Linked DNA regions of Homo sapiens. The protein of the gene in region 1 interacts with the protein of each later gene in a pairwise test. Each region holds a gene or a part of one and is shown on either strand. Other genes may lie near its edges.

The links.
Region 2: the proteins of CECR2 (region 1) and LRPPRC interact in a two-hybrid assay, tested with the Homo sapiens proteins (one study listed by BioGRID).

What each region holds. Positions count from the first base shown.
Region 1 is NC_000022.11:17,547,425-17,554,459, forward strand, and holds part of CECR2 (chromatin remodeling regulator CECR2), read left to right. Parts: intron 1-723; coding exon 724-2,140; intron 2,141-4,606; coding exon 4,607-4,718; intron 4,719-5,410; coding exon 5,411-5,416; 3' UTR 5,417-7,035. UniProt on the Homo sapiens protein: Regulatory subunit of the ATP-dependent CERF-1 and CERF-5 ISWI chromatin remodeling complexes, which form ordered nucleosome arrays on chromatin and facilitate access to DNA during DNA-templated processes such as DNA replication, transcription, and repair.
Region 2 is NC_000002.12:43,971,985-43,979,019, forward strand, and holds part of LRPPRC (leucine-rich PPR motif-containing protein, mitochondrial precursor), read right to left. Parts: intron 5,293-7,035; coding exon 5,171-5,292; intron 5,069-5,170; coding exon 5,010-5,068; intron 4,246-5,009; coding exon 4,159-4,245; intron 3,234-4,158; coding exon 3,107-3,233; intron 2,775-3,106; coding exon 2,630-2,774; intron 2,312-2,629; coding exon 2,166-2,311; intron 1,917-2,165; coding exon 1,811-1,916; intron 1,731-1,810; coding exon 1,623-1,730; intron 1-1,622. UniProt on the Homo sapiens protein: May play a role in RNA metabolism in both nuclei and mitochondria. In the nucleus binds to HNRPA1-associated poly(A) mRNAs and is part of nmRNP complexes at late stages of mRNA maturation which are possibly associated with nuclear mRNA export.

The DNA.
Region 1 (7,035 bases):
TTTCACCGTGTTAGCCAGGATGGTCTCAATCTCCTGACCTCGTGATCTGCCCGCCTCGGCCTCCCAAAATGCTGGGATTACAGGCGTGAGCCACCGTGCCCGGCCCCTAAAGATGCCTTTTGAGTTTCATGTTGTAGGCGTCTTGTCTTCAAGACATGCAGACAAAATGAATGTATTCATTCAACAAAGTGATTGAGTCTGTGTGCATGAACTGAGAGGACAGTGAGACGGAGAAGTCCCTCCTGTGGAGCTTTTATTCTCGTGGAGCAGAAACCAGGCATTTGGCCTTCCTGAGCGCCCGTCATGCCCTGTTCTTTCTGGTTGCATCCCATTTTAGAGCTTCCCAGCATGGCCAGTGATTCTGATGACAACCATCCCCTCCCAGTGTGTTTCACGTGCATCTGCCTAGAGTCCGTGAGCCACAAGCCGTCTCTCAGCCTCTTACGAATCGGGCAACCCACGGTTAAGGACATTTCCATTCTCCGGCCCACTGTAAGAGTGAATGTAGAGGTGCTAGGTTTTACCTTTGTGTCCGTGAAAGGGGTGAAAGGAAGTGTACAGGGACCCCAATGTCCTGCCCTCTTTCAGGGACTCAAACAATTTCCAGGTGGGGCTTGAATCACCACACATCCACCTTAATCTGACTCAGGCATGTTCTTCACATTAATACTGTCATTTCAGCTACTGAGTTATTTTTTCTCCTCTTTTTTTTTTTTTTTGCAGCAGAGCCGTTGCCTGGCCTTGAAGAGAAACCACCAGGTGTTGGTACTTCAGAGGGGGTCTACCTCACACAACTACCTCACCCCACACCTCCCCTGCAGACTGACTGCACCAGGCAGAGCTCACCACAAGAAAGGGAAACAGTGGGCCCGGAGCTCAAAAGCAGCTCCTCCGAATCTGCGGACAACTGTAAAGCAATGAAGGGCAAGAATCCCTGGCCCTCGGATAGCAGCTACCCCGGCCCAGCCGCCCAAGGGTGCGTGAGAGACCTCTCCACGGTGGCAGACAGGGGCGCTCTATCCGAGAACGGAGTCATTGGGGAAGCATCTCCTTGTGGATCGGAGGGGAAGGGCCTTGGTAGCAGTGGTTCCGAAAAGCTGCTCTGCCCCAGAGGCAGAACGTTGCAGGAAACCATGCCATGCACGGGACAGAACGCAGCGACACCGCCCAGCACAGACCCCGGTTTGACGGGAGGCACTGTGAGCCAGTTTCCCCCGCTGTATATGCCTGGCCTAGAGTACCCGAATTCAGCTGCCCATTACCACATCAGTCCAGGCCTGCAGGGTGTGGGCCCTGTGATGGGAGGGAAGTCCCCAGCATCCCATCCCCAGCATTTTCCCCCAAGGGGCTTTCAGTCTAACCACCCACATTCTGGAGGCTTTCCCCGGTATCGCCCCCCACAAGGAATGAGGTATTCCTACCACCCACCGCCACAGCCTTCCTACCACCACTATCAGCGAACTCCTTACTATGCCTGTCCACAGAGCTTTTCTGACTGGCAGAGACCTCTCCATCCCCAGGGAAGCCCAAGCGGACCCCCAGCCAGTCAGCCTCCCCCACCAAGGTCCCTCTTCTCAGATAAGAATGCCATGGCCAGTCTGCAAGGCTGTGAGACACTGAATGCTGCCTTAACTTCTCCAACCCGTATGGATGCAGTGGCTGCTAAAGTCCCAAATGACGGGCAGAATCCTGGTCCAGAGGAAGAGAAGCTGGATGAATCTATGGAGAGGCCAGAGAGTCCCAAAGAATTTTTAGACCTGGACAACCATAACGCAGCTACCAAGCGGCAGAGCTCGTTGTCAGCCAGCGAGTATCTCTATGGAACTCCTCCGCCTCTGAGTTCAGGAATGGGATTTGGTTCATCTGCATTTCCACCCCACAGTGTGATGCTGCAGACGGGGCCTCCCTATACCCCTCAGCGGCCGGCCAGTCACTTTCAGCCCAGGGCTTACTCTTCCCCTGTGGCTGCCCTCCCACCTCACCACCCAGGGGCCACCCAGCCCAACGGCCTCTCTCAGGAGGGTCCCATCTATCGCTGCCAGGAAGAAGGCCTGGGTCACTTTCAAGCTGTGATGATGGAACAAATTGGCACTAGAAGTGGAATAAGAGGACCTTTCCAGGAAATGTACAGACCATCAGGGTAAGATTGCATTCAGGCTTTTCCCCCTAAAGAGAGAACAGATGTTTATTTTATGTATTTATTTTTGAGACAGAGTCTCACTTTGTCACCCAGGCTGGAGTGCAGTGGTGTGATCATGGCTCACGGCGGCATCGACCTCCCAGGCTCAAGGATCCTCCTGCATCAGCTGTTTAAGTAACTGGGACTACACACATGCCACCACACCCAGCTAACTTTTTGGTTTTTTTTTTTTTTTTTTTTTGGTGGAGGTAGGGTTTCACCGTGTTGCCCAGGCTGGTCCTAGTCTCCTGAGCGCAAGTCATCCTCCTGCCTCAGCCTGTCAAAGTGCTGAGATTACAGGCATGAGCCAGCACACCTGGCCTGGATGTTCATTTTAAACAGAAAAATGGCCTTAGAGATGAAGATAACAGTTCATGGTCTAGGAACAAAAAAAATATGTGAATTATTGATGTTGTACACTCTGTAGGAAGGTATTAAACTTAGAGCCCAACTTTATCTTTGAAATTTTTTCCACTCATGAAAATGAACTGGCATTTAAATGACTGACTTAGATTTTGATATTGTAAACTTTATTTATTTATTTATTTATTTATTTATTTTTGAGATTAAGTCTCACTCTGTGGCCCAGGGTGGAGTGCAGTGGTACGATCTCTGCTCACTGCAATCTCTGCCTCCCAGGTTCAAGCGATTCTCCTGCCTCATCCTCCCAAGTAGCTGGGATTACAGGTGCCCGCCACCACACCTGGCTGAGTTTTGTATGATACTATAAACTTAATAACCACAGTTTGAGAGCTGTAAGCAAGCCTGTGTCAACATTGCTGCCATGTGGAGACACTCTGACCAAGGTAAAAAAAAAAAAAAAAATAGGCCTACCCAGGAGTAGAAGAGGAGATCATGTAGTATTGAAGTTTTACTACATACCTCTCATTTCTTACCCTATCATTGAATGAGAAAACCAGGTTTATCCAGAATGCAAACAAGTCCCCATGAGACTTCTTTCACACATGCTTGTGTAGTGTTGTTCTCCAGATCCAGTTAGGTGATCTGCCATCCAGGAAGTTTTCAAATCGATAGATACAAATGAAAGTTATGAAGCGGCCAGGCGCGGTGGCTCACACCTGTAATCCCAGCACTTCGGGAGGCCGAGGCGGGCAGATCACGAGGTCAGGAGATTGAGACCATCCTGGCTAACACGGTGAAACCCCGTCTCTACTAAAAATACAAAAAATTAGCCGGGCGTGGTGGTGGGCACCTGTAGTCCCAGCTACTCGGGAGGCTGAGGCAGGAGAATGGCGTGAACCTGGGAGGCGGAGCTTGCAGTGAGCCAAGATCATGCCACTGCACTCCAGCCTGGGCAACAGAGCAAGACTCTGTCTCAAAAAAAAAAAGTTATGAAGCATAGTCTTGAAACCAGTACCATTCAGCATAAAAACCAGTGTTCCCCTCCTCAGTGCCATCCTGTCATCTTATTGCTAGACCCTCTCTACTATTTAACATTTTGTCGTGTTTGCTTTATATGTCTCTAAATACCTGTTTTCTTTGCTTTGCTTTTTTTCCTAAGCTGTTGGAAAGTAAATTGTAGACATCATGGCCCTTAACCCCTCAATACTTGAGCATGCATCTCCTAAGAATGGACATGCCTTGGAGCACCATTTCAAAACGATTACCACACTCAAGGCAAATAACAGTATCTAATAGAGTTTTTGTTTCTGTTTCCTCAGTTGTCCCCAGAGTGTCTTTTAGAGTCGTTTCTTTGTGTTCTATTTTTATTGTTTTTTTCTGATAAAGGATCCAATGAAGGCTCATGGATTTGCATTTGGCTGCCGTGTCTGTTTAGTCTCTTAATTTATAGCAGTTGTCATATCTTTGTTTTGTTTTCCAAAGAGTCCAGGCCAGTTATCATGGAGAGTGTTCCAGATTCCAGATTCATCACACAGTCTCCTTGTGTGTAGATGAAACTCTTGTGCCAGGTGCAGTGGTTCATACCTATAATCCCAGCACTTTCGGGGGCTGAGGCAGGAGGATTGCTTAAGCTCAGGAGTTCGAGACCAGCCTCGGCAACATAGTGAGATCCTGTCTCTAGTGAAAATAAAGAACTTAGCCAGGCATGGTAGCACACACTACTCAGGAGGGTGAGGCAGGAGGAGCACTTGAGCCCAGAAGATTGAGGCTGCAGTAAACCATGATCCTGCCACTACATTCTAACAGGGTGACAGAGCAAGACCCTGTCTCTAAAAGAAAAAAAAAAATAGATTAAACACTTTTGTCAGGAGTGCAGTAGGTGGTGCGTGTGCGTGCCACTTACTGCCCCAGGGGGCACAGAATGTCGAGTTGTCCCAGTATGGATGATTCCAGGCCTGATCACCGGGGTGATGAAGGCAGTACCCTCGTGACTACAGTGTCTTGTTTCTTCTGTCGTTAACACGTCTTCATTAATTCTTCATTGCTTCTTTCTCGTGGCTGTAGAATGCAGATGCACCCGGTCCAGTCGCAGGCCTCGTTCCCAAAGACCCCCACAGCAGCAACATCACAGGAGGAGGTGCCGCCTCATAAGCCTCCAACACTTCCCCTGGATCAGGTAAGGATCACTAAAAATTAGAGCTGTTCTTCTTCCTCCAGGTGGTAGGAAGTAAGTATATGACAACCTTGCTGTTCTGAAAAAATGTTTTAAGGTATCCTGTGGATACAGGAACTTTGCCTGTATCGTGCTTCCTTGGCACTTGGAAAAAGAGCAAGAGGCCTCGGAAGTCACCTCTCACATGTCTCTTTTTCTTATTGTGATATGGAATGCATACCTATTTGGTGAGTATTTAAACCTCATTTTTTCCAAGCCATCTGCAAACATTTTTTCTGCCATGATCCCTTGTCTGTTTTATGCTTCCCACCTTTCTCATTGGAGAGAGACTAGTTGGTGGGTTTTAAAGTAGTAATAGCTGCCTCTGAGTGCTGCTTCTCTCCCATGCGTTGTCTCGTGCAGTGCTTCTCTCCCATGCAGTCTTTCCCTTGACCCCCACAAAGTAGTTCTCATTGGCTGCATCATCATCATTTCCCAGTGTGCAAGTCCTACTACTGTTAAGCACTGGGACTGGGATCTGAATTGAGAAGTCCAGGACTCTAGAACCTACCCTCTGGAAGTAAACTGTAACTGATGAAACAGAATCAAGCCATTTTCACACATGAGGAGCTTGGACATTCTTTGGCTTACTTAAGTTTTTTTTTTTTTAACAACCCAATTTTTATTTTTGTTTAAAATGTCTTTGTTTCTTTCAGAGCTAGTCCAAGGAGGAAATGAGCCCCAAGCAATGGAAAGCTGCACACGAAGACTGGAATGTGGAGAACTGGGGAGTGCCCTGTCAGCTCTATTCCCATCACCTGCTCCACCCCTTCACGGCGACCCACTCGTGCCATACTTGAGCTGGAGCCAGTCACGGGCCCTAAAAGGACACTCCTTAGATGACTGACACACAGATTGCAAAGGTCCTCGGCCAGGGATCTCTTGCACAGCTGATGTAGACAGTCAGGCAAAACTAATGAACGTGGAGTTAATGATGACTTTTCCAAATCCTGAGACACTTTTCAGGGAAAATCACTTTAAACTTGGGGGAGGGGGTATACTCAAGAATGGAGTGGTGCTTTTAAACTTTGATGAGCAGCTAAACTCAGGTATATATTTGGGGAAGGGACTACTCTTAGTATTAATGGTTTTGGAGCTGGGTCCAGTTTACAGAATTTTCATGTTGCCTTTTAAAATAATTTTTGTTGGTGGTGAATGTATTGTACATAAAGTGGGAAGGGTGGGTGGGGATGCGGAAGAAATGGGGGTCCTAACTGGTGGGCACACAGCACTGGAGTGATTTTTATCTGTTTACAATCATGTCACACTGAATACTTATGGGAGCCGGAGATGAGGGTAGGAAAGGTTTGATCTTGTAATATGTCACTGTGTTTCCTTAGTGGCCAGCCAGCCTTCAGAATAGCTAAAGGCCTTCCTTCCTTCCAGTCAGCCTGAGAGAGAACACCTGTCCCCTAAGCACCTGGTGTCTCCATTGGAGGCAGACTGCTCTCAGGAGACTACTAGAAGCTTCAGCCCGGAAGACAGGCTGCTCTCTCATGCTGGTGGCCCAAATTGAGAAAGTGGTGTCCCTTCCTGATTTTGCCACCAGCCCTACCGAATAGTTGTAAACCAGTATCAGGAATTGGGATCGCTAGAGTGTTTCACGTATTAGAAGATGAATCGTCCTCATCACAGACCTCCCTGTCAGGACTGTGATCTAGAAGGCATCACACACAGCTTTCTGGCACGAATCACATTTTGTGGAAGTGACTACTCAGGTTTGTATATTTTAGTATCAATAAAGAATTGCACAGGTTTGAATAGGAAAAATGTATTCTATAGATTTACAGTTTGAATTTAGGAATATTTCAGTATATATAGTTTTTATTCGTTTTAAGTGAATCATAGTAAAATCAGTCATGGTGATTTAAAATAGCTATCAAGAACAAGTTCTTGGAATTATCTGTTGTATCTGTGATAGGAAACCATTTTACAGTATTAAATTACTTTATTACAGTTGTAGAGTTGAATTACACTGGATTCTCCCTCGTTAGCATTCTGTATTTGATTTTAGCTGAAAGGTCACCAAAGTTAGGACCCATGTTTTAAACTTTTGAATATTCCACAAAAGAAAAAACTAAGGAAAATACTGAAATTACAGGTCTTTGTAAAGAATAGCATATTTTTAAGCATGCTTTTGGGATAGTAGAAGAGTCTCTATGAAATATTAATCTGCCCTAGTTTCTTATAAATTCAGCTGTGGGAGGGGCCAGTAGAGTGTTTCCCTCCAATTCCAGGATTCCTAGTGAAGCATGGAACTGTCGTGTTTACAGTTTGCTAA
Region 2 (7,035 bases), on another chromosome or scaffold:
CACTCTCTTTTAGCAATGTTATTCGTGTAAAAACTGGCAACTAATTTTTAAACAGCAGCTAAGAATTTTTAGAAAATAAACACAGTATAGTACTTACAAAAGCTGAATATGGAAGGGTTATAGTATAAAAAAGGATATTTTAAAAGGAGGACAGAAACCCTCTATTCTAATCCCAGCCTAATCACACCTAGACGTGGAAGCTAAGGTCAGTCACTGAATGTCTGTGTGGCCCTCAGTTCCTTCATTCACGTAATGTGAGCTTTCAGTACAGCACTTTTAAAATCTAAATTCTGAGATTCTAAGACAAGATGGATTTGAGATAAAGCCCATTTTCTACTATTTCAACTGCTACAACCATAGAAAGAAATTACCTAACTCTTTTATGTTTACTAAGTAGTAAAAATGTAGTAATCAATTCAACTGTGACATGGTTGTGGAAAGCAGATTAACCTGATGAACAAACATTTCAACTGGTACCAAAAAAATTTTCATACTTGTGTAAAGGTGGACAATACTAACATGCCTGAAGAGTTTGATGGAATGATGTAAACTTTCTGTGGTTCCAAAACACTGGGTTATAGGTTACCTTTTGGAGCTTTCAGACTGGAGGATATACAAAGAGTTAATCAAACTAGCATATTGTTTTCACAAAGATTTTTCTAAAAAGGATTTAGAGACTTTTATAGCCAGAAACAATTAGGGAATACTTGTTTCACTATTTCCTTTAAACCAGAAGACGGCTGTACATTTAAAATAAAATTGCAATATGAAAGTCTGCTAAAAGCACTTTTTTTGTTGTTTGTGCATTCTGTTTGTCACCCAATGTCACACTAACAATTCTGCATCTCATTCCAAAGCACATTATACTTCGAGATAAAATGAAAAAGACCATTTTTTGTTTCCCCAAGGGGAAAGTACTTCTGTTAAAAGCATCTTTTTATGAGACTACTCTTTCTGAATTACCAATAATGCAAACCGAAGAATTAGATACTGTACTCTAAAATTTAATATTTGTTCAATTCTTATTCATATCCTATAGACATCCCATGTGTACAAGGGAAAAGTATGATAAATGCTTAAACGTACTTAAGAACCTGAAAGATTGAACATTTTTGTCCTTCAATCAGCAGGCTGTCAGGTCATGAGTACTCATTTCACAATAAAAGTTTTCCTGCCTTTCCTATTATTCTAACTAAGCTCAGTTAAAAAGAAATAGATTGGCCCACAAAGAAAATGACCATACTTTTTGTTTTCATGAACCTAATTGTATATACAACTTTATCTTTATTAAAGGTAGACAATCTGATTTCAAACACTATATATAAAATCAAGAACTAAAGAGTTTTTTTAAGAACTTAAAAAAACTACGTTCATTAAGTTTGAATATCAAGATCAGAGATGAAATAAGAAATGAAATTAATGAAATTCAGATGAAAGAAATCCATCATGTTTTGTTTTTTAAAATGCTTACACATAATACTTCATGATGACTTAAAACAATTCCATTATCTCATAATACTCAGGAATAAGTATGCTTTTCCAAAGAATCCAATTAGATGTGCGTGCAAACTGTCATACTGGCTCTGGGAACCATTACAAATCGGTAAAAGGCAAAATCTAACCTTGAACATTTTTTTCCTTCCGACGTCCAACTAGCAATGGCCAGAAATAGTGAGGTCTGATAGGAAAACCTTCCTCCTTCACAGCCTTCATTAAGGCTTTTGCCAAATCTGAAAGAGATATCATAAAAGATCACAAAGCTACCTCAGCAAAACTTCCTTACTTGGCTTTAACTTTAAGAATGTAGTACCAGTTTTATTGGCGAGTAAAGCACAATGGAGGGTGAACTGCAGAGGAAAGGAGTGCATCTGGACTTCCTTTAACTTCTTACAGTAGTCTGTTAGCTTCTCCACAGGCTGTGGGAAAAAAGTCACCACATTAGCTGGATTGGCAAACACCCCACCGTTTGACCTGCTGCAAATATTCTACCACTTCTGAGATGAGCATTTTAAACCCCGCATCCTCTTTCTACCCAAAAATCTTGCAACACAAGAACATTGTTATGATGTTTACAACTGGTCTAATCTTATAAATGTTCCTATACTTTAAAGAATCTTATTTCACTGCCAATTACATTGTCTACAAAGTAAAAGTGGACAGAATACCGTATTCATAGTCACACAGTGTTGTAAAAAGAAACTGCCAAAGACACTTGGGCCATCTTCCTTTGATACGGGGCATGCTAGTAAAATTTGCAACGCTACATCTTCCAATTTTTCAGTGACTAAAAGTAAAATGAGGTTCATTGCATCTGGGAAGAAAACAAAGACATCTTTTGTTAATAAACTGAACAATATTTTTACACTGCAACCAATGTTCCAATACTGAAGACAAAATAAGAATTGCAAACATCAAAAGCATATAACTGCCTAAATAACAATAAAACACCTGCAAATCAAATCATCCCCATGTGTTCATTAACTCATGTTTTTGGGCTTATTTAACTGACTTTAAGAGTTCTATGTTCAACTCCCACAATGCCCATTGTTAGAAAATGTCCTTTCCATCATGTAAGAATAGCAATTCAGATTTTTATAAAAATCATGTAAATAGATTTTTTTAAAACTACCTGGAATATATCTTCTTTCACATGTAACTTTTTCCAAAATTTCTGAGACATACTGAGGATACCCAGCTTTACTGAAGCTAAAAATAATTTGCAGTAAATCACGGTCCATAAGGTGAAGCTCGGACTTCTCCACCTTCTCCAGAGTCTATAGAGAGTTCCAGAAATTAGAAGACAAAGTTAGAGTGTTTTTATTTAAGTATTAAAGCTAAATAAAATATCCAGATTCAAAAAACTAGGGAAAAATACCACCTAAAGGTTTACGACTTCTTTTAAAAAACAGGAAATACTCTACTTCAACAGTAACTGTTACATACCAGCACCGAGATACTAAACTATAATAATTCTCCATAAATACTACTTTCTGCAAGGAAACATCTTTGAAAACAGGTATAAACTTCACTTTCCTGCCTCATGTAAAACATAACACAAATTTTTACAAATGATTTTAAAGTATGTTTATTTAGACATAAGTCATACCTGCTTAACATGGTCAATGTCGCCCTTCTCAGCATATGCATTCAATAATGCGAGGTATGTGTCTGGACCAGGCTCAATTCCGGCATCTCTCATCACTGTGAGAATGTTTTCTGCATTCTCCATATCACTACAAGTTAATTCAAAAAACAGATTATTATGCTTTTGCCAAATTTAATATAGTTATTCAAACTAAAACATATGCTTATTAAAATAAAAAATGCTAAGTACCATTTGGAATTATGATGTCAGAAAAGAACTAATGTATATTAAACTGGATATATGTTTCTGAAATAATAAAGATCATAAACATCTGATCCCCCATTAAAAAATAATAATAATTACATAGACATTAAATAACATACCCTCTTAATATTATGTAGGTTATGACTCAGACTTAACTTTCGAGGTAAGAATAACATTTAGTAAATTACTCTTCAAAAATAAAAATATTTTCCAGAGCAGTTACTTCAGATCAGATCAAGCCCAGTTTCTTTTTTCTTTTTTTTTTTTGAGATGGAGTCTTGCTCTGTCTCCCAGGCTGGAGTGCAATGGTGTAATCTCGGCTCACTGCAACCTCTGCCTCCCGGGTTCAAGCAACGCTCCTGCCTCAGACTCCCAAGTAGCTGGGATTACAGGCACCTGCCATCATGCCCGGCTAAATTTTTATATTTTTGTAGAGACCGGGTTTCACCATGTTGGCCAAGCTGGTCTTGAACTCCTGACCTCAGGTGATCTGCCCACCTCAGCCTCCCAAAGTGCTGGGATTACAGGCATGAGCCACCACGCCCGGCTTCAAGCCCAATTTCTAAAAATTCAAATAAAAGAAAGATTTGTGGAACAAATGTAAAAGCTCATTATAAAAATATTAGTATGCTCTACCTCATATACTACAGATTTTTTTTTGAAGGGATAGACAAATGTATTTTAAGAACTGTCTACAATAATTTTCTCTAATTTAAACCCCACTTAACAAACAAAAAAGGAGTAAAATGACCACTTTAGCATCTCAGCCATCTATCACTTAAGAACCAAAACCTTAGGTTGAACATTACCCAGCTCTGGCATGCCCTGTCACAAGGGCACTGAATACTGCCTCTGTAACTGGGAGATCCTTAGTTTTCATAAATCCAAGAATCTTGCTGCAAAGGAAAAACGAAGATACTCATTGAAAGTATTTATAAGAACACTCTTTACAACATGTACAGAATTAGGCCTTGAGTTACTTTTGTTTTTAAAATATAATAGTAATATACATTTGTTTTAGAAACCACAAAGAAAGAACTAATCCCTTTGATCCCCTTCCCACAAAACCCCACTCTCTAATGTATCAACAGTCTTGAAGTACTATCGATACAAATACTAGATTTTTAAAAATCTGATTATCTGATTTGTCTTACACTACTAATTACCCTTTTAAAAGCATAGTTTCATAAGATTCTTTTAGATAAAAATGAAATTATGTATTCCAATTTATCCCTTATTTTCCAAACCTTCCATTCATAAGTAGTAATAAATTTTACATAAGCAGAGAAATGGTGCAACTGATTTTCTACACTACTTCCAGTTTTATAAATGAATACAGCTTAAATGGTTAAGAACATTTCCCTTAGGAAATATTTAAAAAAAAAAAAAAAAAAGCAAAGTCAGCTTTATAGCTCAACAACTTTATACCTCTCTCCAGTAAATCAAATTTTTAATTAAAATAGCAACTTTTACTTATCTTTTCTCTCTTACACGATAATTTTATATTTTATGTAAGTCAGATTACCAGATTTTCTAGATTAAAACAGTTCTGAAACAATTTCCTCCATTAGGAAGAAGCTTTAAAACAAAGAGTGAACAGACATTAGATTTACAAAATGTACAAATTTGTTCGCTTAAACATGTTCATACAGATCCATACCTGGCACCTTCAATATCTCCTACATTACAATAAGAAGCAATCAATCTCTGGTATGTCACCTGTCAATGAAATGGGCCAGTTAATTTTAAATATACTTTTTTTTCTGAGTAAAGAAAAAAAATGGTGGATGTGAAAATATATTCACAATAGCAACTACTTACTCGATTTGGTTGAATGTTTGCTTCCTCCATTTTTGCCAGGAAATCAGTTGGTGAGAATTTATATTCATTTTGAAGATAGACTTTAAGTAAAGCATTATAGTGACTCACATCATACACAGCACCTACAAATGAAATTTAAAATGAATTTTTAGAAAAGCATTGAAAATCCTATGCTTTAAAGTGGACCTAAATTTAACAAACAAAAAGAGTAAAACTATCACTTTAGCATTTCACCCATCCATCTTGGCGCTCAGACCTATCTACACAGATACTCTGTCACACAGAGCAAGCTAAGCATGTAAGACAGTAATTACTGAGTTACTGTATAGTTACAAGTAACTGCCTATTCGGATATTAAAAGGCCTCTTACTTATGAAGCACAAAATTATCTTCCTGTTAGAAAACGCTGACAATATCCCTATATTTAAAAGTGACTGTAAGATTTTTCTATATAAAGCAGTCCTCACATTACAGACACACTGTGAAGAATGGATTGTAACTTCAGTTCTTTCACACAGTAGGACTGTGCTGGCAATTCTGTCACTCAAAGCCTTCATTTTAAGGATGCATTCCATTTTCAGCTGATGAACATGATCTATGGTATGCTCTTGTTAATTATCTGTATTCTAATGACCTTTGTTTTCTTTGTATCCCTACTGTTTAGGGCCACATCAAATAAGGTTACCACACAGCCTTACTCTACTGAGTCATGACATCATGGTCTTTATATCAATTTTGTGGTAACATGTCTCACTACATTTTCATGCATTAAATTTCACATCTTTATTCAACTGCCTGTGACCATACAGGCCTATGGTTAGTATCTGGGGGTGAGAGTATGTGATTTTAGGCAGCAGAGAGCTGTTCCATTAAATTAATACACATTTTTATCTTAACAGATATGTTTCTTTCATACTATGTTTCAGGCACTATGCTAAGTGTTCCACATATAGTGGCTCACTCAAACTTCACAACAACTTTGAGACACTATTATCAGCCCCATCTTACAGATAGCTCAGATCTGTCAACAGCTCATTCTGTAATTTTGGACAAGTTACTTAAGCTAAAAGATCTCTTGTATCTTTATAAATCTGTAAACAAGAGTCAAACTGGCAAACTACAAGGTTTCTGGCAATATTAATTCAACAAGTATGTATCAAATGCCATTATACACAAAGCATCATGCTACTGTCAAACAGGAAAATAAAGAAGCCATGGATTCCATCCTTATAAAGCAGACACTTATACAGGAGAGACCTATCTGTAAAGAATGTTAATATAATAACACATTGTTAATCTTTATATGGAGGAATTAATGTTATTACTGCTGTGTAATGCTTTTTTCTATTTTAGAATGTAACCTTTTCTGCATATATTTCTCCCAGTTCAATGACTTACTGACATACAGAAATTTCTAATTTTTAGAGATTCAATATTTTAGCTTTACTTTTCTGCTCCTTTTATACTTATAAAATCCTTTTCCATTCTGAAAGTCAACATTTATCTATATAGTTTTTAACTTAAAAAAAAATCAACTTATCAAAATGTATTCTAGATGTATTCAAAACTGTGAAGGAAGAATCTGTCTTTATCCTGTAGTTTTTTTCACATAGGTCCTACTCACTTTTTGAAGGATAGTCCTAAATATTTTATTTATCTGTAGCTATACTTTCTTGGATTCTTTTCTCTATTTTCTTTTATAACTAGAAGAGGTATGGATTCTTAAACATTTAGTGAGTCCAGCTAATTACTGTGAGCTGATTTTCTGGGATTTTGCAGATTAAACAATCACATCATCTAAAAATAATAACTTCTTGTATTGTTTCACATCTTATTTCATTGCATTATACATGATTGTTGTCGGT